4 linked regions of the Homo sapiens genome follow. The protein of the gene in region 4 purifies or fractionates together with the protein of the main gene of each other region. This does not show direct contact. Each region holds a gene or a part of one and is shown on either strand. Other genes may lie near its edges.

What was found.
Region 1: the proteins of SLC9D1 (region 4) and SQLE purify together in Homo sapiens (affinity purification with mass spectrometry; 2 studies listed by BioGRID and IntAct, with this or other methods). This does not show direct contact.
Region 2: the proteins of SLC9D1 (region 4) and PXMP2 purify together in Homo sapiens (affinity purification with mass spectrometry; 2 studies listed by BioGRID and IntAct, with this or other methods). This does not show direct contact.
Region 3: the proteins of SLC9D1 (region 4) and PIGQ purify together in Homo sapiens (affinity purification with mass spectrometry; 2 studies listed by BioGRID and IntAct, with this or other methods). This does not show direct contact.

Annotation. Positions count from the first base shown.
Region 1 is NC_000008.11:124,994,406-125,001,518, reverse strand, and holds the start of SQLE (squalene monooxygenase), read right to left. Parts: upstream 3,015-7,113; 5' UTR 2,116-3,014; coding exon 1,825-2,115; exon of another isoform or gene 1,565-1,824; coding exon of another isoform or gene 1,448-1,564; intron 1-1,447. UniProt on the Homo sapiens protein: Catalyzes the stereospecific oxidation of squalene to (S)-2,3-epoxysqualene, and is considered to be a rate-limiting enzyme in steroid biosynthesis.
Region 2 is NC_000012.12:132,697,585-132,704,607, forward strand, and holds part of PXMP2 (peroxisomal membrane protein 2), read left to right. Parts: intron 1-3,665; coding exon 3,666-3,785; intron 3,786-7,023. UniProt on the Homo sapiens protein: Seems to be involved in pore-forming activity and may contribute to the unspecific permeability of the peroxisomal membrane.
Region 3 is NC_000016.10:572,950-579,972, forward strand, and holds part of PIGQ (phosphatidylinositol N-acetylglucosaminyltransferase subunit Q), read left to right. Parts: intron 1-1,116; 5' UTR 1,117-1,125; coding exon 1,126-1,814; intron 1,815-2,889; coding exon 2,890-3,021; intron 3,022-3,184; coding exon 3,185-3,305; intron 3,306-5,429; coding exon 5,430-5,556; intron 5,557-5,835; coding exon 5,836-5,989; intron 5,990-6,119; coding exon 6,120-6,231; intron 6,232-7,023. UniProt on the Homo sapiens protein: Part of the glycosylphosphatidylinositol-N-acetylglucosaminyltransferase (GPI-GnT) complex that catalyzes the transfer of N-acetylglucosamine from UDP-N-acetylglucosamine to phosphatidylinositol and participates in the first step of GPI biosynthesis.
Region 4 is NC_000013.11:113,501,011-113,508,033, reverse strand, and holds part of SLC9D1 (transmembrane and coiled-coil domain-containing protein 3 isoform 1 precursor), read right to left. Parts: intron 6,283-7,023; coding exon 6,154-6,282; intron 4,539-6,153; coding exon 4,446-4,538; intron 1-4,445. UniProt on the Homo sapiens protein: Probable Na(+)/H(+) antiporter.

The sequences.
Region 1 (7,113 bases), on a different chromosome or scaffold from region 4:
CTTCTTCATAAGTTTTTCCTGTTTTATATACACACACACACACACACACACACACACACACACACACACCCTGAAAGGAGAGCTCTGGAGGAAAACAGGCCTTGCAGAGCCTGATCAGTAGAGTAAGCACTAATGGGAACTTAGTAGTCAATAGATCACAATCTAACAACTCCCTGGTTCACAAAAAAATAAAGAGAAAGCCTGGGGCGTTCACAAAATGGAACCAATATTGATTGCTGGTAACCCAATTTTCCTACTCCAAAATTTCTCTACACAGCATGAAAACAGGAACAGCATTCCAGCCACCTGAACTAGAGCTCAGTGACCTTAAGGGAAATTATTTCAGACCACAATACAAAAAAGTTCAAATTAAACATTAAGGATTCTCTCTCCCTCCTTTCCCATTCCTCAAACCCATGCACCATGTCACTGAACTCAGCGCTACTCATAAAGCTCACCCTAAGAGATGTATATTACCCCTAGGCTAATATTAACAGCTACTATTATCAGGCGGTTATAGACTAGGTATTAACTACCAGCAAGGGTGGTGCCATTCCCGTCTAATGGAAGAGGTAACAGATTCTCACAGAAATTAAGCAATTTGCCAAAGATCTCACATCCAGAAATGGTGGCGCAAAAATTTAAAAAGCAAGTGGGCGTTTACTGCTATAGTCTCTTGCCTGATAGCCCTGCTTCCATTCTTGTACGCCTACAACCCATTCTCCATACAGCAACTGCAATGTTCTTTTTAAAAGGTAAAAGTCAGGCCAGGCGCCGTGGCTCACGTCTGTAATCTCAGCACTTTGGGAGGCTGAGGCAGGCGGATCACTTAAGGTCAGGAGTTCGAGACCAGCCTGGCCAACATGGTGAAACCCTGTCTCCACAAAAATACAAAAAAAAAAAATTAGCCAGGAGTGGTGGCGTGCACCTGTAATCCCAGCTCCTTGGGAAGCTGAGTGAGGCACGAGAATCGCTTGAACCAGGGAGGCGGAGGTTGCAGTGAGCCGAGATCACGCCACTGCATTCCAGCCCGGGCGACAGAGCGAGACTTTGTCTCAAAAAACAAAAATTTTTTAAAAAGTAAACACCGAATAAAGTTACTCCCATACTTAAAATCCTCCAGTGTTCTTGGGAGAACTCTTGGGAAAAAGCCCGAACACTCATTGCCAACATGCCCTAAATGATCTGGCCTAAACTCTTCCCCCTCATCTTCTCCCAGTGGCCGCCTCTGCTCCCTTTGCAGGAATCCCAACTACACCCTTATTTGAAGACCTGGCCTTTATGTTAGGACATTACTACAAGCATTTACTCAATGCTCCAATATTCGGGGGAGGAGAACTTTGAGCCCAATGCCTCAAAATGTTGAGCATTCTCCTTCTGCCTGCTTTTCAAACTGTTCTGTCACTTTCCCCAGTCAGCTGTCACTTCTTACAAGCAGTGGACTTACCCGCAGCACGTTTCTTTCTTCCTCAGGCACAAATCCAATCCTTACCCAAGAACTTTTTAAAAACTTTTTCATCATGGAAAGTGGTTGTTCTTCTCCTTCAAAATGAAATTCTAACATTTCGTTCCATCTTTCATAATCAAATATCCAACCTCCATCTGAGGCTCAACCAATGCTAAATGAAACAAATGTCTTCACTCATTCTTAAGAAGGTCAAAGATGTAACCAAGGCACAGCAGAGTTTAAAATAAAAAATACATGAGAATGTATACAAGCATCTAACCTGCCGCCTTTTGCAATTCAAATAAAACTTATATTTGAGTGAACCCAATCCTACTCCTAAATAAGACATTCATCTGCCCGCTTTGAAATCAACCTACCCTCCTGGCCTCGAGCTGCTCCTTATTTTCTGATTCAGGGGGGGATTTGGCCCAGAAGAAGCCAATGAAAGGCAGGCCTGAGAGAATATCCGAGAAGAGGGCGAACTGGGAGCCGCTCTGCTGGCGCCCGAGGAGACCCCCGTTTCGGTGGCGACAGCGGTAGGAGAGCACCAGGCCCAGCGAGAGGAACACCAGCACGCACAACAGGACCTCCCTGTTGGCCAAAGTGATGAAGTCCCCGAACTTCTTATAAAAATAGGTGAAAGTGGCAATGCCCAGAAAAGTCCACATGGTTCCAAGGCTTCTTTGGTGGCACCGGTCAAGGCGGAGATTATCTGCTCGAGTGGGTTTAAGGTTCTCCCCAAAATGAGGTACCAAGAGGAGCACGGAGAGCCGGCCAGACTCCAGTAAACAGTGTCCCAGGACGAGAAGTCCGATCAGACCAGTTTTTAAAAATCATATAAAGTTAGTGTAAAAGTATGTGAAGCCAAGTTGTATAGGGCGTAGAAAGCAGTATTTAAAAATCGCCTGCTGGAACAGCTCCCGAGCAGACTCGCTCCTCCTCGCCCAGGAAATCCAGATATTCCCTTTTTTTCTTTTTTGATGGTGTTCCCTGAGCGGTTGCTGCGGGTGATGGATACTCTTCTGATACTGGCTCTTCGTGCTATAATTTCTTTTCTCACCAAGAGCAGGTGCCCTTTCAGAAGGGAATGGGAGTGGAGGGAGGGTCACAGAAACACCTCGGCACTGGGGGAAACGTGGCCTAGCCTCTGGCGACGGCGAGCAGCGGCCGGAAGGCACGGGGGCTGCGGGCCGGCGCGGGTTCAGAGGCTTCTTTTTCCGCGGACGGAGACACTGTACAGCCCAACCTCGGGAAAACGCCAACGCCGACGCCTTCTCCAACAAAAGATGGCCTCGGACTCAAGAGTGCGGCTCCAGGGCAATGCAGCCCCAACCTAAAGATTTAGAGGCCTCCCGTTTCGCTGGCCCCCAGAGCCGCCCACCGCGACTGCACTTCCCCACCGATAAAAGGTGGTTTCCAGGGTACCTCCCTCAGATGGCGGCGGCGGCTCCCGACGGCTTCCTCACCAGCATCCCTCGCGGGCGGCGGCTCTCGCCAGCGCGGCGCGGCCCCAGTAACCAGAGTAACCGTCGCACGCCCCCACTCGCCGCCAGGCTCCACGCGTCTCAGCCAGCTGGGCGGGCTCGGCCCAGACGAGGGACCGGGGGCGGGGCTCAGGCGCGAGTCCGCCCATACCGCGCGCCCCGCGTGCTGCCCCGCCCCCTACCCCTGCTCCTGCCGCCGCCGGCCAATGAGGGCGCGCACCGCGCGGTAGGCCGAGATGGCGCTATGCCGCGTTTGGCCAATCGGAGGCGGCGCAACCTGCGCGGCGACGCCCCGAAAGGCGCTAGGGCGATGTTGCGTGGTGCGGGTTGGGGCGTGGGGATGGGCGCGGGCCGGCTCCGGCGTGGGTGGGGCCAGGGGTCGCCTAGGAGGCGCTCTGGGGCCGGGATCGGCGTCGGGGTCGGGGTTGGGGTTGGTTCACCGCAGCAGCCCCAGCTCCTGCGCCCTCCCTGGACTGAGGTGTGCTCGCTTTGAGGAGAAGCCTGGAGTGATCCGCTGCCTCGGGTCGGAACGTTTCCATTCATTCCGCTAGCATTTATTGAGCGCTTATGATATGTCAGTCCCCGGAGTCCGAAAGAGGAATCAGACACAGCTTCCCTGCCCTGTGTATGTGGAGAGGGCGGAAGGGAGGGCCATGAGTGCGTGGAGAGCCTGACATTCCAGCTGAAGCTGGAAGAATGAGTAGGCTTTTGCCTTAAGAAGAAAAGGAGAGGACGCTCCAGGTGCTCAGGCTAGAGATACACGGATGCGCCCAGCCCGTTCTCTCAAGACCAGAAACGTTGGGGGTGGGGGCTCGGAGGCAAAGAAGTCAAATAGTCGTGTCATAGGTGTCCTGAGAAGGGGGTGGTTAGAGAGGGAGCCATGGAAACCCAAGAGGTGGTCCTTCCCTTGGCCTGGAGAAGTCTGGTGAGGCGCCCAGGGGGAGGTTACACGGTGTCCAGGACAAGCAGTCCGAGGGAGCAAAAGTGTGCAAAAGTCTCGGAGTGAGACAGCCCTTATTCTACTACGATGAAACTTACCTAAAATTTATTGAGGCTTAAGACCTCAGTGTCTTTGCTCATCCTGTTTCTTAACTCTGGACTTCCTTCTTTAACCCCTATGATAATAGGTGCAAATCCCTTCTGCCTTTTGGAGCGTGGCTGCATTGTCACCTCTTCCACCAAATCGCCATTGACCTTCACCAAGTCACATAACTTTATTCATACTTTTTAATCTCTAGATTCCCTAAAGATCTGTGTCTGATAAGATCACCCACAGCACCTAGCACAATGCTCTGCCCTTAATTTATCCTCCATAACATGTATTTAATGAATGATGAACGACACTGGCGCATAAAAGCAAGACTAGGCAACTAGAGTTAGGAGACCCAGATTCTGGCTACCGCTAACCAGACTGTGACCTTTTACAGATGTTACAAGTCACTCTGCCTCTGTGGGGAGAAGGCAACTTCTTCATGAACTCGAACATCCTTTGCAATTCTGTATCAGATACTTGGCAGGGTTTAAAAAAACATGGCACCTCTTATAACTTTTCACCCCCAATATTATGTTTTATCTGCTAATAAAATAATTATTTGGTAAAACACCCGCACAGGCGTTCACTTGACCCTCAAAACAACTTTGATTTTTAAAATGAGGAAAATGAAAATTAAAGAGGTTAAATGGCTTGACTAAATCACAGCTGTGATTAAATCGTAATGATGAAACCAAAAGTCAAAGTCCTGGTCTCCAAATCTTGTGGTTCCCCAGTATGCATAATTATCAATAACTGCCTTGCTTTCCAATACTTTTATTCTTTCTTCTACAATATTCCTCACTGTTACCAGTAAGTTTGGCTGTCTGAACTGACATCAAATTTAAAAGGACTGCAGAAAAGAGAATCAGTTCAATGTATGGGAAATCATTTCCTGAAGAGAATTCTTCAATAAACTGCTTATTGGTATCTGTGAGTTCTGTTTTGTTAAAATAATAGAGGAGCAGCTGACTCTTTTATTATTTTTAAATTTTTGTGACAGAGTCTCGCTCTGTGGCCCAGGCTGGAGTGCAGTGGCGCAATCTCAGCTCACTGCAACCTCTGCCTCCTAGCTTCAAGCGATTCTCAAGCCTCAGCCTCCCGGGTAGCTGGGACTAGAGGCACGTGCCACCATGCCGGCTAATTTTTGTATTTTTAGTAGAGACAGTGTTTCACCATGTTGGCGAGGCTGGTCTCAAACTCCTGACCTCAAGTGATCCTCCCGCCTGAGCCTTCCAAAGTGCTAGGATTACAGGCATGAACCACCAAGCCCGGCCAACTGACTCTTACAGATGGGAATACAGTTATCACCAGGATGGCTGTTACCTGCTAACTCTGTACTCAAGATTATCATAAAAGGAATTTTTCTTATTAAGTAGATAATTTTTTAATCTCTGGAAAGCGACTTTCTTCATATGTTTTTATCTTCACAAAGTCATTCTTACAATGTCAGGTCTGAATCCTTTAGGCAGTTCAAGATCCACTTCTGAATTTGGGGCAAAAAGAGCACTTGTAATACCTACCGCAGAGCACACTCTGAATGCCTATATCTTCTGAACTGAATTAAATGTTATATAAGCATTGCTTAAGTATTTTTGAATCTTGCCATGGTTCATTTATTCAAAAACAAATCTGTCATTGAGACCTGAAGGGAAAGCAATGAAATGTGAGACAAAATCAGCTGCTTACTGGCAGAAAGCCATAATGCTATCAAGTAGGTACATGAGAAATACTTTCGTACAAGAGCTCACACATATAGTACGGGTAGCATTCTAAATACTTTTCATATATTAGCTCGTTTTGGCTTCCTGACAACACTTTTAGGGAGATACTACTTTTTTTTTTTTTTTTTTTTTTTGGAGATGGAGTCTCGCTCTTTCACCCAGGCTGGAATGCCGTGGCCTGATCTCGGCTCACTGCAACCTCCGCCTCCCGGGGATCAAGCGATTCTCCTGCCTCAGCCTCCCGAGTAGCTGGGACTACAGGCGCAGGCTGCTACGCCCGGCTAATTTTTGTATTTTAGTAGAGATGGGGTTTCACTGTGTTGGCCAGGCTGGTCTCCAACTCCTGAGCTGAGGCAATCCGCCCGCCTCGGCCTCCCCAAGTGCCAGGATTACAGGCGTGAGCCACCACACCCAGCTAAGATACTATTTTTTTAGCCCCATTTTACAGACAAGAAAACTCATGCACAGGGAAGTGATCACAGCTAGTGACTAGCAGAGTCTGAATCCAAGCCCAGAAAATGTATGTGAGGAATTTAGGAATGTGTGACTTGATTTTTCTCCCCACACAAAGACCTAGTTATCTTGAAACAAACAAGCACATCTGATCTCTTTTTTGCTTAAGCTTTTGAGTTTTCACTGTTAGCCTAGTTTGGCACACCAGGCTAGATTTGTGTTTTAAGTGCCATTCTCAATGCAAGAAAAAGTCCCGCCCAGCTTTCCTCAACTACCCATGCTTTGAGACCTCAGATTAATCATCTTTTTTTTCCTCAAGTTTTCATAATTCCACCTCTGTTGTAGCAGTCACTCACCAATTTGTACTATAATTATCTACTCACAATGCCTTTTCCAAGTTGTCGAAAAAGAGCTCAAGAGAGGGTTCTGAGATCTCATGCAAAAAGGAATTCAAGGCTAGTAGCAGAGCGCAGTGAGAAGAGAGTTTATTAAAAGCTACTCCATTACAAAGTAGGGCATCCCCAGAGAGTAAGAGGAGGCACGTCTTGTCTGTAAGTTTTCCTTATACAGAGGTCTTATCTATGTAAAAAGCTAAGCTGTGTCTACATGTCGGTGAGCAGACAGCATTACAAATTATTCTATTGATTTAAAGATAACTATCCTTGACATTCTAGTGTGTGAATACATCAAAGCTTAACTGTAATTATCTTGAAAACATAGATTGTTATGGGTATTGGGACATGTGGGCTTTCTGCTTTTGTAGGAGTGTGTCCTTGTAGTAGGTATCTTTAGGCTGTTTCCTCAACTATAAACGTGTTATGATTATGGGTTGTGACCGAAAAGGAATGTGCCTTGTTAGTCTCAAGATGGAGTTGATTTTTAAAGTGGTGCCACTCTGGCTCTCCTAGGCTCCTGCTTCCCTAACACAAGGGATTCAACTCCTCAAGACAAGGACCATGTCTTATTCACAGTTGT
Region 2 (7,023 bases), on a different chromosome or scaffold from region 4:
TTTAGTAGAGATGGGGTTTCACCATGTTGGCCAGGCTTGTCTTGAACTCCTGACCTCGTGATCCGCCTGCCTTGGCCTCCCAAAGTGCTGGGATTACAAGCGTGAGCCACTGCGCCCAGCCGTATTTTATTTTATAGATTACAAAACATTCTGAGAAGGGGGTCCACAGGCTTCACTAAACTGCCAAAGAGATCTGTGGCACAAGAAGTTTGAGACCCCTACTGATAACACAGAAGAGTTCCGGGCCTGGAGGTTAACCTACCGGCATAATCCCAGTCAGAATCCAACGCATGGGAGGCGTGTTCACCTGCACTCAGCAGGTGTGTCTGTTCTGACTGTCCCACCTCCCCCGTTCACGAGCACCTTCAAATCCTCACCATCTCTAGGAGCACCAGCCAGGTTGTGCTGTGTGTCTGAGACGTGTCACCTTTTTTTTTTTTTTTTTGAGACGGAGTCTCACACTGTTGCCCAGGCTGGAGTGTAGTGCGTGATCTCAGCTCACTGCAACCTTCGCCTCTTGGGTTCAAGCAATTCTCTGCCTCAGCCTCCCAAATAGCTGGGATTGCAGGTGCCCGCCACCATGCCCGGCTAATTGTTTTGTGTTTTTAGTAGAGACGGGGTTTCACCATCTTGGCCAGGTTGGTATTGAACTCCTGACCTCGTGATCCACCCGCCTCGGTCTCTCAAAGTGCTAGGATTACAGGTGTGAGCCACTGCACCTGGCGTCACCTTCTGTCCTGAAAGTAAATTTGTTTTAACCATTCACTTCTCCATACAGAAGTTATAAAGGTTCATGTATTCAAACATGACATTATTCTCCTTCATGCCTTTCCTTACAGGAAGATAATAGAAATATTCTCCTCTGCTTTCCTCCGGTATTCTTATGGTTTTACTTGTGTACAGTAGGAGATAGACTTCTGTGTTGATTTTTCCACTTACATAGCAAATTTTCTCATTACCATTTATTGGGCAATCCCCAGTATTTTGAAATATTCTCATTTCCATCTGTACAGGCAATTATCTGCACTCTTTGTTCTTTTGCTGGATTATTTTCTTTTTTTTGAGATGGAGTCTCACTCTCGCCCAGGCTGGAGTGTGGTGGCACAATATCGGCTCACTGCAACCTCCGCCTCTCGGGTTCAAGTGATTTTCATGTCTCAGCCTCCAGAGTAGCTGGGACAACAGGCGCCCACCACCACGCCTGGCTAATTTTTGTATTTTTAGTAGCAATGGGGTTCCTCTGTGTTGGCCAGGCTGGTCTTGAACTCCTGGCCTCAAGTGATATGCCCACCTTGGCATTACAGGCATGAGCCACTGTACCCAGCTTCTCCCCCTTACTTTAAACAAGAAAATATTTAAGCATTTCTTTAAAAATTTTTTTTAGTTTGTATATATTTAGAGGGTACGAGTGCAGATTTCTTATGTGACTGTGCTGTGGTGAAGTCTGAGCTTTTACTTCCCATCACCCAAGTAGTCAGTGGTGATTTTCAACCCTCTTCTCCCCGCCACCTTTTCAAGTCTCTGGTGTCTGTTATTTCCCTCTGTTGGTCCATGTATACCCACTGTTTAGCCACCACTTATGAGTGAGAACATCGGCTGAGGCAGGAAGGTCACTTGAACCCAGGATGTCGAGACCAGCCTGGGCAACAGAGTGAGACCCCTTCTCTACAAAAAAATTAAAAATCAAAGGGTTGTGGTGGCACATGGCTGTAGTCCCAGCTACTCAGGAGGCTGAGACGGAGGCTTGATGTCAGGAGGTTGAGGCCAAGTGAGCCGACATCACGCCACTGCACTCCAGCCAGCATGGGCAACAGAGTGAGATGGCGAGACCCTGTCTTGGAAAAAAAAAGTGAGAACATGCAGTGTTTGACTTTCCATTGGTGAGTTGTTTCACTTGGGATAATGGCCCCCGGTTCAATCGACGTCACTGCAAAAGACATGCTTTTTTTTTTTTTTTTTTTTTTGACACAGAGTCTCGCTCTTTCATCCAGGCTGGAGTGTAGTGGCGCAATCTCATCTCACTGCAACCTCCGCCCCCCAGGTTCAACGATTTTCCTGCCTCAGCCTCCCAAAGTGCTGAGATTACAGGCGTGAGCCACCGTGCGCGGCCGAGTTCATTCTTTTTTTTATAGCAGAGTAGTGTTCCGTGGTGTATTTATGGCACTTTTTCTTTATCCAGTCCTCTGTTGGGGGACGTTTAGGTTGATTCCACGTGTTTGCTGTTGTGGATAGCGCTGTGATAAACACACGAGGGCAGGGATTGTTTGATATGATTCCTTTTCCTTTGGGTAGAGGCCCAGTAGTGGGATTGCTGGATCGAATGGTGGTTCTATTTTCAGGTCTTTGAGAAATTTCCATACTGTTTTCCAGAAGGGCTGTACTAATTTGCATTCCCACCAGCAGTGTGTAAGTGTTCACTTTTCTCCACATTCTTGCCAGCATCTATTGTTTTTTGACCTTTTTTTTTTTTTTTTTGAGGCAGAGTTTCACTGTGTCAGCCAGGCTGGAGTGCAGTGGCACGATCTCGGCTCACCGCAACCTCCGCCTCCCGGGTTCAAGTGATTCTCCTGCCTCAGCCTCCTGAGTAGCTGGGATTACAGGCACACGCCACCATGCCCAACTAATTTTTGTATTTTTTTTTTTTGGTAGAGACAGGGTTTTCCCATGTTGGTCAGGCTGGTCTCAAACTGCTGACCTCGTGATCCGCCCACCTCAGCCTCCCAAAGTGCTTAAATTACGGTCATGAGCCACCGCGCCTGGCCACTTGACTTTTTAATAATAGCCATTCTGACTCGCGTGAGGTGGTATCTCCTTGTGGTTTTAATTTGCATTTCTCTGATGATTAGTGATGTTGAACATTTTTTCATATGTTTCTTGGCCACTTGTTTTTCTTCTTTTGAAAAATGTTTGTATCCGTTGCCCACTTTTTTAATGAGGTTATTCATTTCTTTCTTGTTGAGTTGTGTAAGTTCCTCACAGATTCTGGATAACAGTCCTTTGTAGGATGCATAATATGCATATATTTTTTCCCAGGCTGTAGACTGTCTGTTGATTGTTTCTTTTGCTGTGCAGAAGCTTTTTTGTTTAATGAAGTCCTGTTTGTCTGTTTTTGGTTTTGCTGTATTTGCTTTTGAGCACTTAGTCACAAATTCTTTGTCTTGGCGGACGTCCAGAGGAATTGCTCCTAGGATCTTTATGGTGTCAGGTCTTGGGTTCAGGTCTTGAATCCACCAGCTGACATTTAGAATGAACTTACTGGAGTCCTTTTTTTTTTTTTTTCATAACTCCTAACAAGTTTTGATTGGAAAGACATCGACTTTGGAGGTTATTTGGGAGGAATTGACAGCGTAGCTCTGAGTAGCAGTTCTGGTGCCCAGGGCCAGCCTTGGGAGTCACCTCCTCCAGTTGTCCGCAAGGAGTTTTGGGCCAGGACAGACATCACTGCCAGCATGAGCAGGCTGCTGTCTGGCATCTCACTGATCATTTTCCATCTTGCTGGTTGGCTCCTTAGAGCCGCAGTGCTGAGTACACATGTGTGCTGTCTGCGTACACACAGAACAAAATCCAATAGCAGTTTAAAAACCATCACGATAGGGTCTGGGTGCCCGGAATTCAGTTCTGATGGGCAGTGAGACTGTTCACCACCCGCCTTCCCTCCTTTGCAGGGGAAAGACGCCTCAGCCTTCGCCGCCAAGATGAGGGGGGGCTTCTGGCCGGCGCTGAGGATGAACTGGCGGGTGTGGACGCCACTACAGTTCATCAACATCAACTACGTCCCTCTGAAGGTGAGGGCCACGGGGCTCAGCCTCTGCTAACATTACTTTGTCAGCCTTTTCCTTCCTTCCTTCCTTCCTCTTTCCTCCCCCCCTCCCTCCCCTCTTCTTTTCTCTTCTCTTCTTTCTTTGGTAGTTTTCCGCTAGACTTAGTTTCATCCGTGTCTAGACTCCTCAACTACCCTTGGATTTTGCCCATGACCCTGAATCATTGCTAGTTCGGGATTCAGGAAGCAACAGAGAAGGGTGTCCCGAGTGGTCGTCTTTGCCTCTTCTGTTCGTTCAGCAAATTCTCATTAAAAGCCCCCATGCCAGGGATGCCTATGAGTTTTCTAGCCTTTGAAACATTCCCAGTCCCAGGAATGTACATGCAGGCAACTTGAATCTATGCTCCTGGGTTGCAGTCCTCAAACTTGGCCCAAATAAACTCTAGTTATACTTAGAAAAAGAAGGCCGTCACAGTAGCTCACACCTGTAATCCCATCACTATGGAAGGCTGAGGTGGGCAAATCACTTGAAGCCAGGAGTTCGAGACCAGCCTGGCCAACATAGCGAAACCCCATCTCTACTAAAAATACAAAAATTAGCCAGGCATGGTGGCAGGTGCCTGTAGTCCCAGCTACTCAGGTGGCTGAGGCACAAGAATCACTTGAATCCGGGAGACGGAGGTTGGAGTGAGCTGAGATTGTGCCACTGCACTCTAGCCTGGGCAACAGAGTAAGACCCTGTCTCAAAAAATAAATAAAATGTTAAAAAGAAACAAAGCATTCGTGGTCCCTGGGCTCATGAATTACAGCTGAGCCTGAAGGCAGGCACTGTGCGGCCATGGGTCCTGCCGCTGGCCTGGAAGAGCTGCCTCACCTGCAGCCATGGCAGCCACACCTGGGCAAGGGGTGGGCCCATCCAGGTGCAGAGTGAAGGCCTTCTGGGTAAGCTGAGCCTTTCCGCTATCCTGTGCATGAAGGAGCTGCTGTGGGGGCTGAGTCAAAGGTGTCAGATTGGGGCTGGGCTGGTGGTGTGGAGGCTGGAGCTCCAGGCTCTGCCACTGGGATCAACTGTCTTTATGCACAGCCAGGGTCCCCAGGACCACTCCCACACTGGGAGGATGGGGTGCAGCACCCCCTGCAGCATGGCAGGATACCCCCAGATGCTACAGGAGGAGGCCTGGCAGAGCCTGCAGGGGCCACGTGCTTCCCTCCCCCAGAAGGTATGCCGCCCATCAGGGTTTTTTACTGGTACTCTGGGCGGGCATCTCTGCCTGCTGCCCCAAAGCTCCAGACCCCTAGAAAGACAGCAGCTGTGTGGAGCCTGCATTGTTGGTGCAAACAGTCCAGGCACAGGGCAGGTGGCCCTTCTGGGAAAGGTGGGTGCCGTCCCAGCCCAGGCTGCTGCTAGGGAGGACCTGAACAGGCCTGCAGTGGCTGGACCTCAGCTGCAGAGGGCCTTCCTGCATTAGCACCGGCTCTGAGCCCTGCCCAGGAGGGAGGAAAGGACCAGGGTGACCCCCGAGGGAGAGGAGGGAGGCGGCCCAGTGTGTGCACACTGCACACACCACAAACACACCAAGAAGCAGCAGGAAACCAGGGGTGCACACAGACAGGACAAAGAGGCAGTTCACCCTTAGCCAAAGTTGCCAGGAGTTAAAGCAAAATAAAAAAATTTCCTTTGGCTTTAACAGTGGCCCTTCCCAGAGCAATTTCAGCTCTATGGGGCTGAAGCCAGATTGCCTTGAAGAGTGGGTGGGAATTATTTTAAAAATCACAAGTCTAGAACATGCTCTCAAAGTCTGTGGGGGCCAGGCATGGTGGCTCATGCCTGTAATCCCAGAACTTTGAGAGGCTGAGGCAGAAGGATCACTCAAAGCCAGGAGTTTGAGACCAGTCTGGGCAACATAGTGAGACCCCATCTCTATTTTATAAAAATGAATTTTAAAAAGTTTGAGAGAAGGTGAGAAGTGATGGAAGAAGGCTGGGTGGCAGAGGGGGTTCTGACACTCAGAGATGCGGCCATGGTGGGTGCAGACGTGAAGCTGCTTGTGGGATGGGCAAACACGCATGTCCAGAAAGAGCAGCTCTGCGGGGTCCCCTAAGGAGTCAGGGTGGATGTGAGCCCCCAGCACACTCACAGTGGTGCTTGGACAGAGGCCCTGCCCTCTGTGATGAGAGAGGAGAGAGAAAGTGACAGCTGAGCGGACAGGAGAGTGGGACATCCTGCCTCAAGCCCCCACGTGCCTCTCTGGAGGGCCAGGGGCTGGGACTGAGGGCAGAGGAAGTCAGGCGGGCATTTTAAGGGGATACAGGAGGGGCAAGTTTGGCCATGTGGAGGATGGGAGAGCATGCTGACTGCAGAGACAAAGACCTCTGGGCAGAGGGGGCTGGGGCTTGTCCAGCTGTGGTCAGCATCTGGGGAAGTGAGAAGGCAGGAAGGATAAAGGATTTTCCAGGGAGTGTGACTGAAGAACAGTAGGCTAAGGAAGCTACAGCCATGGGCCACTGGTTCTCGGGAATTTAGAGAAGGAAGCAGAGACAACTGAGAAGACAGACTGGCCGGGAACACGGAGGATCTGGGATGGAAGAGGGGAGAGCTGGGAAGCCGCGCCTCTGAGTAGCGTGGGGGCAGAGTCGCCATCCTAGGTGGGTGCAGGTGTATGCGGAAGCAGCATTCATTCAGCAAGCGTTTCCTGAGCAGTGACTGTGCGCCATGCTGCTAGACTCGGAGACGCGGCGATTAACCAGACACATGGGCTGCTACTTTCATAGCACCACGTGCCAGGGAGAGACTCAGCACTGGGCCAGAGGATTCTGGGGAAGGGTGAAGCTGCTGAGTCACCAAAGCAGGGCAGTGGGATGGTGATGGGTTAGAGGAGGGAAGGTCTGGGGCCCCTCCGCTGTTCGTCAGCTGTGTCCCCTGAGGAGGGTGCAGCCACCTGCATGATGGCTGGTCCTGGAGTGAGAGAGGCTGAACCAGGAGCTAAGGTGTGCGGTGAAGGGGGCAAAAGGAGAGTGACTTGGCTTTGGGATTCCTGGGCCGCTGTAGCCTGTGAACACTGTAACTAGGGGACCGTTTTTCTTCTCCACTCCTCTCTGCTAGGGGCCTAGCACAGCGTTTGGTACGAACAAAGGCTCAGTAAATGCAGTAATGGATGGGTGGTTGGACCAGCTGACCAACAAACGGGTAAACAAATGAACTGGGTGACTGAGGCTGGATAACTGGCCACGGCCTCCCGCTGACCGTGGCCTGTTGGACTGTT
Region 3 (7,023 bases), on a different chromosome or scaffold from region 4:
TCTTCGTGCAGGCGAGATGGGGCTTTCTGTGTCTGAGGAAGGCGAGCGGCCCAGCCAGCCGGCCAGTAGTGCCCCCACCGCTAGGGAGTCCTCCTGCCCTGTGGGGCCCCGCCAGGGAAGGCATCAGTGGAGAAGGAGCCCCAGCTGGCTGCATGGCTCCGCAGGGGCCTGTGAGAAAGGGGGAGGAGAGGCCCAGGGCCTGGGAACCGCGGTAGCTCAGGTGGCTTCCTACTCAACAGCCACCTTGGAAGGCTGGTGTCCCTCAGCCTGAGAGTGCAGGATGCAGTTTCTCCACACCTCCGGGACCTGTAAGCCTCTCTCTCCCCGTTTCTAGGCACCCATGTCGTTGGAGAAATATATCCTGGAGAGAAAATGCTCCCTGAGGGAGCCCTGCCCTGGGGTGGCTGTGGGGATGTCAGGGAGGGCCAGGCACTGCCGGGTGCCACCGTGGGCGGGGGTCAGAGTGGAGGCCGAAGCCCTGTGTGCCCTGAGCAACGAGGCAGGTCCTTCCTGCCCCCAGGGAGGGGCTTGTGGGAGGCAGGGACCTTCTGGGGGGCTGCCCGCCGTGCGCACGAGGTAGTTTCCACAGCCCAGCAGCACATCATTTTACATTTTCATCTTTATTCTTGCTTAATACGTGAATCATGGTTTGTCAAGGTTTCAATTGGCGTGACCTTGCTAATGAGATTGTACAGTTCTCCTCGTGCTACACCTTTAAGCACACCTCTCTAATCAGGTTTCTTAAAACTAAGAAGCCTGGAGTTCGGTTCGGCCCCACAGCCGCGTCAGGTGGTGCCGAGGAGGCCGTGCCCTGGGCCGGCCTGGAAATGGGAGGGCAGGCCTGGTGGCTGCATGTGCGTCCTGCCTCGTGCGGGTGGGGCTGAGCTGGGCCTGGGGTGGACTTGGGGCCAGCACTCTGGCTGCCCCTTGGAGAAGCATGGCCCACGCGAGGCGGCAGCCAAGGAGCCCTACGGCGTCCACCACCGAACTTGAAGCTGAGGTGCCCCGACCTGGGGCCCTGTGGCTGCACCTGTCAGGCCGTCTGTGCAACATCCCGCAGCCCACGGTGGGGGGGCAGCAGCAGCTCTGAGCCGAGCCTCTCCTCTTCTCTTCCAGCCTCCCGGCATGGTGCTCAAGGCCTTCTTCCCCACGTGCTGCGTCTCGACGGACAGCGGGCTGCTGGTGGGACGGTGGGTGCCGGAGCAGAGCAGCGCCGTGGTCCTGGCGGTCCTGCACTTTCCCTTCATCCCCATCCAGGTCAAGCAGCTCCTGGCCCAGGTGCGGCAGGCCAGCCAGGTGGGCGTGGCCGTGCTGGGCACCTGGTGCCACTGCCGGCAGGAGCCCGAGGAGAGCCTGGGCCGCTTCCTGGAGAGCCTGGGTGCTGTCTTCCCCCATGAGCCCTGGCTGCGGCTGTGCCGGGAGAGAGGCGGCACGTTCTGGAGCTGCGAGGCCACCCACCGGCAAGCGCCCACTGCCCCCGGTGCCCCTGGTGAGGACCAGGTCATGCTCATCTTCTATGACCAGCGCCAGGTGTTGCTGTCACAGCTACACCTGCCCACCGTCCTGCCCGACCGCCAGGCTGGAGCCACCACTGCCAGCACGGGGGGCCTGGCTGCCGTCTTCGACACGGTAGCACGCAGTGAGGTGCTCTTCCGCAGTGACCGCTTTGATGAGGGCCCCGTGCGGCTGAGCCACTGGCAGTCGGAGGGCGTGGAGGCCAGCATCCTCGCGGAGCTGGCCAGGCGAGCCTCGGGACCCATTTGCCTGCTGTTGGCCAGCCTGCTGTCGCTGGTCTCAGCTGTCAGTGCCTGCCGGTAGGTGTCCCGGGACAGGCAGGTGGCAAAGAGTGGGGTCCCATGAGTGCTGGCCCATCCCTTTGTCTGCAGTGGGCACAGAGGCCCAGATGCGCTCTTCCTGGGCCCGGGCCCCCTCCCACTCCTGCAGCCCGGGCTTTGGCCCCATCCTGCTCTCCCAACCCTCGCCTCTCAGAGGGTGTCCCTCACCCCTGGGGTAGAGCCAGGTCTCTGGGCAGCCTCAGGGATTGCCAGGGGCCCTCCCAGAAGGTGTAGAGGGTGAACCTCAGTGGCTTAGGTCCCTGAAAGAGAAATCAGAAGGTGAGCACAGACATGACTACTGCTGCCTGGGGGTGCTCCTGAGGGCACACAGGCCCGCTGGCCTCCCTGTAGCCCTGCCTGTGCCCCCAGCAGGCCTCTGGACACTGCAGCGCTCATGGGCTGTGGGGGTGTCATCCACTTGCTGGCCCCGTGTGCCTGGGGGAGTGGTCTACAGGCCCTGCTTCTCTCCACAATCACAGGTGCTGCTGGCCAAGGGTCAGTTGAAGCCCAAGGGCCCTGAGGGGCACGGGGGTAGCCCCGAGCTGTGGCTGAGAACAGAGGGCCCCCTTCCACAGGGGACCTCATCTGCCTGGCGGAGGTGCCCCATGGGGAGCAGCTAGGGGTCACCTGCAGTTGCCCCCTGCCTTAGACCCGGGGGTGCATACTCTGGAAGCCTGGGGTGAGAAGCTAGGCCAGCCCAGGAGACCCCGGGCAGCTTTCTGGGCCCTGTCGGCGGGGCGAGGCCCTGGGCCCGTGGGAGTTGCTGCTGGCTGGCAGGCGCTTCTTGGCACCGGCTCTGGGAGCATGTGGTGACCAGGTGGCCCGGGGTCAGCACCTGCGAGGAGGCCAGGCTCCGTGTTAGTCACGTGCACTGTGAGGTGGGCGCGTTGAGCGCTGCCTACCACCACCTGGGCCACCGAGGGCCCCTCCCACCTGCCCCCTGTCCTGCTGAGCTCAGGAGTGTGGCCTGGGTGTTTGTGGTCCCCTGCACAGTGGGGGACGGTGGGAGGAGGATCTGGAGAGGGACACATCACTCCTCTCCACTCCCACGCAGAGTGTTCAAGCTCTGGCCCCTGTCCTTCCTCGGGAGCAAACTCTCCACGTGCGAACAGCTCCGGCACCGGCTGGAGCACCTCACGCTAATCTTCAGTACACGGAAGGCGGAGAACCCTGCCCAGCTGATGAGGTGTGGGCCTGCCCTGGTCTCTGCAGGGCTGGGTGCGTGCCCTCTGGCCCCTTCTCCATCCCCCTCTGCACCACGCTGACCCCTCCGGCCAGGCAGGCCTCCTCCTGCGGCCCCAGGCTGTGCTGGCCACCCTCATGCCGGCCGGGCCGGACCTCCCTTCCAGGAAGGCCAACACGGTGGCCTCTGTGCTGCTGGACGTGGCCCTGGGCCTCATGCTGCTGTCCTGGCTCCACGGGAGAAGCCGCATCGGGCATCTGGCCGACGCCCTCGTTCCTGTGGCTGACGTGAGTGGACTGGGGTGGAGCCCGGTGTCCCGGGTGGGCGTGGGGACCCCTCCTGGGCAGCAGAGCCTTCCCGGGCCAGAGCCACCGCCCCACAAAGCCAGTTCTACCTTCTCCATGCTCTGGAGACACGGCCCTCCCCTGAACCAGAAGCAGGAACTCCAGGGGCGCTGGGGCCTGGGCAGGGCAGGCCTCGCAGGTACACCCCCCTTTCCTTCTGAAGGGGCTGTGTGCAGGAGCCAGCCGGGCTGAGGCTCTGGGGAGCCCGCCTCTCCCTGTGGGCCCAGCGTCCTGGTATCTCCCTTGTGGTCCCTGAGATCAGCGTTGCCCTCCTGGCTCTCTGGGGCCCTCTGCAGAGCCAGGGTCATGAAACCTTTCCTGTCCAGGGAGGCCCATGTGCAGCCCAGCTGGGACTTCCTGCCCTGCCCCTGTGCTGATTCTGTAACTCCTGTGCTGAGAGCCAGAGGCACAGCTTGTCTCCCATCTCCCACCTTCCCTGCATGGTCTGTGCCCCGTTTCCAGCCGGGTGCAGCCCCCTCCTCTGCAGATCTAGTGCATTTCCATGCTGCCTCTGGGCCTTCAGCTTCTCTGTCTTCCTCCCTCAGCACCAAAGCCCCGTCTCTTCCATTAGGAGCTTGTCTTCCTGCTGGGGGTGGTACCTGACTCTTTGGCCCACCCTCGGGCCTCTGTGGAGGCCTCCTTGAGGCCTGACTGGGTGGGTCTTGTGTGGGCTGCAGGTGTGCACTGGGCCTGCTTGTGGCCAGGCCAGGCCTCTGGGGGCAGCATCAGGCACGTCTGTGTGGCTGTGGGGGTGCAGGGAGCTCCAGCCCAGAAGGAAGGAGGGGCGGGGCTGGGGAAGGGGCTCGGCAGCTTTGCCTGTGGTCGTCCGCACCTGCCACCGGCCTACTTTGTCCTAGACCTCCCTTTTGCAAAAGTGCTCAGAAATATAAATATTTAATTTAAAAATGAAAGTCTCTTCCTGCTGCCAAGCTCTTATCCTTTAAATATTAAATAAGCTCTATTTATAAAGAATGTTCTTTTCTCAGCCGGGGGTGGTGGCTCATGCCTGTAATCCCAGCACTTTGGGAGGCCAAGGCGGGCGGATCATGAGGTCAGGAGATCGAGACCATCCTGGCTAACACAGTGAAATCCCGTCTCTACTAAAAATACAAAAAATTAGCCAGGTATGGTGGTGGGCACCTGTAGTCCCAGCTAATTGGGAGGCTGAGGCAAGAGAATGGCGTGAACCCGGGAGGCAGAGCTTGCAGTGAGCCGAGATCTCACCACTGCACTCCAGCCTGGGCGACAAAACAAGACTCCGTCTCAGAAAAAAAAAAAAAAAAAAGTGTTCTTTTCTCCTTCTTGCCAGTCCTGCTGTGGCTGAGGCCTTGGCCCAGGCTTGGAAGGGGCCTGCGCAATGGGCAAGTGGGGGCCAAGGTGTCACTCACTGTCTCCTTAGTGGGGAGGCTGAGGCTCCCTTGGGGTCTGCCCGCTGGGGCACAGCCTCTGGATGCTGAGTTTCTTCCTGGGCGGCCAAGACCCTGCTTCCCTGTTTGCTCTTGGGGGTGCCTGTGCCCTCAACTTGACGCCATCCTCCCTCTGGGGACCTGTCCTCCTGCCTGGTCGCTGTGGCCCTGATGGGCTTGGCACTGTCTCGCTCACCTGTGGTCATCCCGGGCAGCCCCCAGCCTCTGCGATGGGGTGGGGCCTCTGGAGGGGACTGTGTCAGCTGTGGGCTTCCCTGCAGGGCTGGAGCCGAATCAGGGTCTGCCAGGCCTCAGTGCGTCCACGTGTTTGGGGCCGAGGGCTCCAGTGGGTCCTGTGGCCGAGGTAGTGAGAGGGGAGGAAGATGGTAGAGGTGGGTGCAGGCAGGGGGCCACGCGGATGCCCTGTGGGCCCGGCCATGTCACCCAGGCCTGCAGAGAGAGGCCTCCAGACCAGCCTCCTCAGACCCCAATCCCGGAGCCATCTGTGAAGGGGAGCCCGTGTGCTGTCCACGCTAGGACGCGGTAGACCCTGGAGGAGGGAAGGCTGGCCAAGGTGGGAGCCCATCACGAAAGAGCCTGGGGAGATGCAGGTGCTGAGCCTGGCTGCCCCCGCCCCAGCGTGGCCCCTGTGTCCCTGCAGCACGTGGCCGAGGAGCTCCAGCATCTGCTGCAGTGGCTGATGGGTGCTCCCGCCGGGCTCAAGATGAACCGTGCACTGGACCAGGTGCTGGGCCGCTTCTTCCTCTACCACATCCACCTGTGGATCAGTGAGTGCAGGGCAGGCGGGGGCCCCAGGGACCCCAGAGCTTGCTGAAGAGGGTAGGGACCCAGCCAGACCCCGCCCCCTGTGCCCCCAACTCTGCTCCCCAGCGTCCTGTGTGTGTGAGGCCTGCTGTGCTCAGCTGAGGGCTGGGGCCTGGGCACCTCCCGAGGGCTGACCCCACCCTGCCAGGCTACACGCACCTCATGTCCTGTGTGTGTGAGGGTTGTGCTGGGCCGAGGGCTGGGGTCTGAGCGCCTCCTGAGGGCCTACCCCACCCTGCCAGGCTACATCCACCTCATGTCCCCCTTCGTGGAGCACATCCTTTGGCACGTGGGCCTCTCGGCCTGCCTGGGCCTGACGGTGGCCCTGTCCCTCCTCTCGGACATTATCGCCCTCCTCACCTTCCACATCTACTGCTTTTACGTCTATGGAGCCAGGTGGGCGTGGGCTTCCCCCTCCCCACCGCCCCCTGGGAGGTGCAGAGGCTCCGGCTGGGCGGGCGTTCGAGTGGGGCGGGGGCGGGGCGGGGCGGGGCGGGGCCGGGCCCGACAGCACTGCGTCCTGTAGGCTGTACTGCCTGAAGATCCATGGCCTGTCCTCACTGTGGCGTCTGTTCCGGGGGAAGAAGTGGAACGTTCTGCGCCAGCGCGTGGACTCCTGTTCCTATGACCTGGACCAGGTATGGGGCAGGGTTCGTGGCTGGAGGGGCTGACTGCCTCCGGCCTGTGCCCGCTGGGCCAGCGCGGTGCTTGGGCACCACAAGGGGGCAGCCTGCTCCCGTCCTGCAGCTGAGGCCGCGCACAGGCCCTGGGAATAGATAAGTCTGCGGTGTGGGCTGCACGTGGGGCTCTGAAGCAGCGCAGAGCTTCCCTGGGCCACAGAGAAGAGACAGACACACAGCCCCGAAGGTGGTGCAGGCACAGGCCCTAGAGGTGCCCCGGGCCCAGAGACTAGAGATGCCCCGGGCCCGGAGACTAGAGGTGCCCCGGGCCCGGAGACTAGAGGTGCCCCGGGCCCGGAGACTAGAGGTGCCCCGGGCCCGGAGACTAGAGGTGCCCCGGGCCCGGAGACTTGAGGTGCCCCGGGCCCGGAGACTAGAGGTGCCCCGGGCCCGGAGACTAGAGGTGCCCCGGGCCCGGAGACTAGAGGTGCCCCGGGCCCGGAGACTAGAGGTGCCCCGGGCCCGGAGACTTGAGGTGCCCCGGGCCCGGAGACTAGAGGTGCCCCGGGCCCGGAGACTTGAGGTGCCCCGGGCCCGGAGACTAGAGGTGCCCCGGGCCCGGAGACTAGAGGTGCCCCGGGCCCGGAGACTTGAGGTGCCCCGGGCCCGGAGACTAGAGGTGCCCGGGCTCGGAGACTAGAGTTGCCCGGGCCCGTCTGCTGCTCACACTTGCCGCAGCCGCTGGATGCTGCCATGCAGAGCATGTTCTTGGTGACTGTGTGGCCACGCACCGTCTTGGGTGGTCTGGCC
Region 4 (7,023 bases):
ACGGGACCCGTGCATGCATCAGAAACCCCATCTGCAGGTGCGCCCAGGTCAGAATCTGTGGGTTACCAAGCCCCCCAGATGGCTGCCTGTGGGCTGAAGGTCAGGAGGCGCTGACGGGAGGGCCCCTTGGCACCCCCGGCGCCAAGACACATTCTCCTGAAATCCCAAAATACAAGCCGCAGGGTAGGCACACACGTACGTTATACCTGCCTCACCCAGCAGCCCCTGAAGGGCCTGGAACACCACAGGTGCTCAACAGGTATTTGTAGTTAGAACAGAGAAGATACAAGACAGAAGCAAACGAAACTCCCAACCACAATGACTTGAGAAACAATCTGGAGAGAGGCAGAAACTGACAGACTCTTAAGAGATCAAGTTTAAGGAACAGTTGAAGTCAGGCTAGAGGAGCGAGCAGCTACAAGGGCGAGAACAGAGTGGGCAGCTTTCCTCAGCACTATGCACGGCGCAGTTTCGGGGCTTCAGTGTTCCAAGTAGTTTCTAATCATATCTTTAGAAGTCCTAAGAGGGGCCTTCTGGCAAGTATTAACATTTCAAAAACCCAAGGAAATTATTTTCCCACCCATAAGTGTGGTGTGCAAGCTAACCCACGTGGCAGGAGGCTCATCAGTTCAGAAAAGTCACTCCGGGTATCTCAGGTTATTCTAAAGCTTGGCCAGATATTTATACCTGAGTAATAAAAAGGGGAAAATAAACACATTGCTTAATAATGTCGTTTTCTGGGTGGATACAGATCTGCAATCCGAGTCCACAGACTTAGAAAAACAGCGGGATGCCGTCTCCATGAACCAGGGTGGGGCCAGACTCCGACGGCTCCCTCCGGGGACAGCAGCACAGGCTCGGCAACGGGTGAGAGGAGTTGGGACCGGGAGACCCTCGTCAGCGCCAAGACACCCGCACATCCCAGACACAGAAGGAACCCTGCCCAGCCCCACTCAATCAGATGTCAGCAAGGAGTTTCACAGACGTCTCCTGAGTCCCAATCCAGTGTCCTTCCACGCATCTGACTCTGTCACCACGCAGGGCAGCTGAGCACAACTTACTAACAGAGAACGCCAGCCTCTTGCCAAGCCCCCGAGTCTACACCACCAAGCAGGCACTTCAGAACCGGGTGCAAACCCTCGGAAGCACCATTAGACGACAGCAGGCCTGATGAAGCACATGCTCACGCTGCTCACAATTACCTCCACCTTACGTTATACAACATTATTTTTTATTTAACTGTGAATACTATAGTGGAGAAAAATACAAACTATGAAAATGCAGAGCCAGAAGACACTGGAGCCTTCTAGATTCCTCACTGTACAGGAGAGGAACACAGGTCCAGGCAGATCAGTGCCTTGTTGACGCTCTGCTGCACAGCCAGAACTTCATCCCTCCCACCTCCCCTACGGGTTGGCCCTAAATTGCCCTTTGCTGCAAACCTCTCTAAATTACACACACACACACACACACACTCACACACACACGCCCATGCTGCACCATGGAATGGAGGCCTTGTGTTTTTACGGAGTCTCGTGGGACACTGGTGAGACAGGGCACTGGACAGCCACATCCCCAAACCCCCTATAACAGGCTCCTCCACAGGCCAGGCAGCCACGCGGCCCACTCCCCCTTACCCTCCCCACCCATAACAGCTTCTTCCTCCACAGGCCAGGCAGCCACTGGCTGACACCCCCTTACCCTCCCCACCCATAACAGCCTCTTCCTCCACAGGCCAGGCAGCACGCGGCCCACTCCCCCTTACCCTCCCCACCCATAACAGGCTCCTTCCTCCACAGGCCAGGCAGCCACGTGGCCCACGCCCCCTTACCCTCCCCACCCGTAACAGGCTCCTTCCTCCACAGGCCAGGCAGCCACGCGGCCCACGCTCCCTTACCCTCCCCACCCACAACAGTCTCCTCCACAGGATTAACGGCAAGGATGACACAGCTTTTCATTAGGACCCAGGAGAGTGGTGAATTCTCTTTAATCATGGAGCTTAGAAATTAACAATTTACAAGAAATATAAAAAGATGCAAAGTACCTGGAGAACACCCTAAAGTTAATTCAGAACACCTTATGAGGATGCCTGTCTTCAGGAGTGTACACAGGAAAGGGAGAGTAATGGGAAGATGGAAAAACGGAGCTTTTAGTGGAAAAACAGAAAGATAAAGAAAACAAAAAGTTCTAGGTAAGAGGATGAACTGAGGAAGCAAATGGGAAGAGAGTATAAAGAAAAACATGCCAGTGAGATCAGAGTTGACTTCTGAAAGTAAACACAAGCCTTTAAAAGAAAAGTTTATTCTTCCTCCTAATGACAAAGTATTGACTGCTTATTATAGAAAATTTGGAAAATATGGAGAAGAAACCAGAAGTCATCATGGCTACCCGGAACGCTTCTTTCCCATTTTTCCCCCATGTATTGGTGCTTCTTTTACATTGCCGCGGTCATGTTACATGCTCCTTTTTTCCCCACATTTAGCTTTCCAACCGATATTTTGCTCTGTTGCTGATGCTCTTGTTACTTTGCAGTGGCTACCTAACACTCCATGGTAGTCACGCCGCAGCTGAACTGACCGTTAGATGCTCAGGACTGGTTCCACTGTTTCTTAAAAATTTACAATGAGGAGGTGAAACCTTTTGTGGGTAAATTTTTTAAAAACTTATGTTTGATTCTTTCCTTTGGAGAGAGACCTAGAAGAACTACCAGGTCAAGGCATATGTACATTTTAAGGCTTTTAGGTCAAATTGCTAGACAGCTCTCCAAAAAGAGTGTACAAATCCAAAGAGCTGGAGAAAATCTCCACAATCTATACATCCGACAAAGGACTAATATCCAGAATCTACAAAGAACTCAAAAAAGTCAGCAAGAAAAAAACAAACAACCCCATCCAAAAGTGGGCTAAGGATATAAATAGACAATTCTCTAAAGAAGATATACAAATGGCCAACAGACATAAAAAAATGCTGAACATCACTAATGATCAGGAAAATGCAAATCAAAACCACAATGCAATACCTTACTCCTCCAAGAATGGCCGTAACCAAAAAATGAAAAGAATAGATGTTGGCAGGGATGTGGGGAACAGGGAACACTTCTGCACTGCTGGTGGGAGCGTAAACTAGCACAACCACTAAGGAAAACAGTGTGGAGGTTGCTCAGAGAACTAAAAGTAGCTCTACCATTTGATCCAGCAACCCCACTGCCAGGGGAAAATAAGTCATTATACGAAAAAGAGACTTGCATGCACATGTCTAGAGCAGCACGATTTGCAGTTGCAAAAATATGGAACCAGCCCAAATGCCCATCAATAGAAAATGTGGTATTTATATACCATGGAATACTACTCAGCCATAAAAAGGAACAAAAAAGGGGTATTTGTAGCAACCTGGATGGAACTGGAGACCATTATTCTAAGTGCAGTAACTCAGGAATGGAAAATCAAACGTCGTATGATCTCACTCCTAAGCGGGAGCTAAGCTATGAGGACACAAATGTGTAAGAATGACACACTGGACTCTGCGGACTTGGGGCAAAGGGTGGTGGGTGGCGAGGGATAAAAGACTACACATCGGGAGCAGTGTACACTGCTCTGGTGACAGGTGCACCAAAATCTCACAGATCACCACTAAAGAACCTACGCATGTAACCAAACACCACCTGTTCCCAACAACCTATTGAAATAAAAAAATTTTAAATTAAAAAAAGAAGGAATACTACATGAGAGAGCTGAATGATTAGGCAAACCAGACACTGTAAATTAAGTCACTTTGTTTAAAATGACCAAGTCTTTCGTGGAAAAAAAACCCCAAAAATACAGAAAGGGTGTACAGTTGTGATTCTCACGAATCTGGTTCAAGAATGCCTGTTACATCTGACAGTCACTTAAAAACTTTTGCTAAGTCGATGCTAGTTTTCCAGCTAGCACTGCAGGCAAAGTGGTATCTGATCTTAATTCACAGGGTGTTTTTGTTATGAACAGTGTTCATTTTACCTCTCCCCACCCTGGCTTTTAATCAGCTACTTTCCTCTTTTGTGCGGTGTCTGGAAAAACAAAGTGTCTTTTAATTAACTCACTTCCAATTGACAAAGTTTTTTCTAGGGTAACACACTGAATATGCAAGCTCTATGACATCTGACCCTCTAACAGTTTCGCACCTTAGAGGGAGCCATCTATTAAAGTTCACACACATTACTTTCCAGACCCTTCCTGAAGTTAGCCATGTGAAGGCAAATTCCAATTCTTCACTGAATTTCTACGCTTTCAAACCTGATATTTTTTATCTTTCTGAATTTGTCCCAAAAATAACATCAAACCGAAATATCATATTCTATTCTAAAAACATTTGATAGTGAATTCATCAACAAGTGTTAAAAGTGTATGAACCAAAACCACATGATGTGAAGCTCCTTAGCTGCAGTAACAGGTTGATGAGGTCCTTACCTTTCTTAGCTTTTCTGGAGAAAATTCTAAGCCAACAAGAAAAAGAGTAAAAAACACCCCAAATTCTCCTAATGTCTCCACTTGCACAATAGACTGAAAAACACAAAAGAAAAACCATATAATTGTACATGTTTAACATATTAAGTATACTTAACTCAACAATCATGCCCTAGTATGCCCGGTGGAAGTATCCAAAACACACATACACACACACACACACACACACACACACACACACACACAATCACACAGTGTACTTCGATTAACCACTTCTCACTTTTGGCTAGTATGTGCTTTGATTTTTATCTTGGTCTATTTATAATTACATTATTTTCCATGGTTTAGCTGATTTATTAAGAATTATAATTTTTACAGCATCCAGTTGTATGTGTTACCCAGCCACTTCACCTTATTTGTTGGTTTATGAGCACCTTTGCTATTAAGAAAAAGAAGGAAGGAAATTTGTATTTGCTTTTATTTGCAAAGGGCAGGAAGTGATTTTTCACCTCTGGTGTTTTATACTTGAATCACGTGAAAAAGACCTACTCCAAAAACTACATTGAAACAGCCGTTCTTCCCAGAGGCCATTCTGCCAAGGCGAGCCCTGTCCTGGGAGCCCCCACACGTGGGCTTGCGGCTCCTCTGCCGGCCAGCCGCTCCCCAGGCCCAGGGTGCTGGGCGCGCTCCTCTTCACCAGCTGGGGCTCGAGCTCCTCAGACCCCTCCTGCCGCCCTGCGATCTGGAGAAAGCCCTGGGGCTCCTGGGCCTAGTCCCAGGCTCAACCAGCAGCAGAGGGAAAGAGGCTTGGAGGGAGCAGGCTGCACTCCTCCCCGTCCCACCCCCTGGCACGCCTCCCTCCAGTGGGACTCATGGCACCCACTCTGGCACCCGTTCTCCACGCTGCTCGCACCGTGAGTGTTGTGGGGAGACAGCTGGAAGCTTGGGAACCTTTCCTCCCTGTCAGAAGTGCCATCAGTGTGACGGGGCCCAGCAAACAGCCCCACTGCCCACTGCCTCGACTGGGGCTAATCAGCTTTTCCATGTGTTGTGAATGGGATGCTTAAAAACAGTTAATGGGCCAGGCAGGGTGGCTCATGCCTGTAATCTCAGCACTTTTGGAGGCCGAGGCGGGCGGATTATGAGGTCAGGAGTTCAAGACCAGTCTGACTAACATAGTGAAACCCCGTCTCTACTAAAAATACAAAAAATTAGCCAGGTGTGGTGGTGTGCACCTGTAATCCCAGCTACTCAAGAGGCTGAAGCAGGAGAATCATGTGAACCCGGGAGGCGGAGGTTGCAGTGAGCCAAGATTGCACCATTGCACTCCAGCCCGGGTGACAGTGCGAGACTCTGTCTCAAAAACAACAACAACAACAACAACAAAAACGGTTAATGCAACACTTTGGTTACATTCAGCACGTGAAAGGTGGTCTGAATAACCTGGTCCAGCACGTTACTGGAAATGGAGTCCTTAAAACTAATGGAAACGAGCAGGGGCGTTGTCTCCAGTAACACCGCCCCTTCACTAACAGGCACAGCGACTTCCTGAGGGTTCAGAGACTTCCCGTGACACCTGAAAGGACATCTTTGAAATGGTTTATACGAAGCTGGTATCTGCATTAATCACATTCAATACTTTTTAGTCTTCATGAATTCTCTTTTTATATTCTGTTAAACAGATACCAAAACAATCCAATTTTGTTCTTACCTTAATACTATTTAGTCCTGAAGGTCCCAGAAGTACACCACAAATAATATAACCAAACATTGTAGGCAATCCTATGGCTGTACATAGCCAGCCACAAGGCAAGGACAGCATTCCTATGGTAACAATGTCCTGAAGAATAAAATAAATAAGAAACAGAAGTATAAGATAACAGTGGTAAGAAGGGGGCTGGCTGGCTGAGGCACAGAACAGGACGTAGTTCCCCGATTTCACCTGATGGGAATGAAGGGTGAAGACAAAACCACCGATTTTCCTCATGCTGAGGATCCCAGAGAAGCTGAAAATATGAAGAGTGTATTCTGGGAATAGATGGAGTTAGTTTTTCATGGCCTAAAGATTACAGTCACCCCTCGGTATCTTTGGGGCAGTGGTTCCATGATCCTCCCCTGCCCCCCAGACCAGAATCCTCGGATGCTCAAGTCTCTGATACAAAACGGGATGGTATGTGCATATAACCTAGCACATCTTCCTATATACTTTAAAGCACCTCTAGATTACTTATGATACCTACACAATGGAAATTGATGTCATATTTTATTTGTATTTTTATTGTATTGTTATTCTTGGGTCTTTTTTCTGAATATTTTCATCCACAGTTGGTTGAATCTGAGGATGCAGAGCACGTGGACACAGAGGGCTGACTATACAGCAAAGTTTTTGTTTTGCTTAAGCCCCATAAGAGTGTTCTAAGAATTCTGAGTCCTAGAATTCCACTGAGTTTTCTAATCTGGGAAACTCTCAGTGCTGGTGTCCAAACTGTAATTCACGTGGCTTTGCCATGACGGGTGCAGGCAGGAATCTTTAGTGGGCGCTGGCACTGCTGCACCTGCAGCCCTGAAGGTCAGTGAGGAG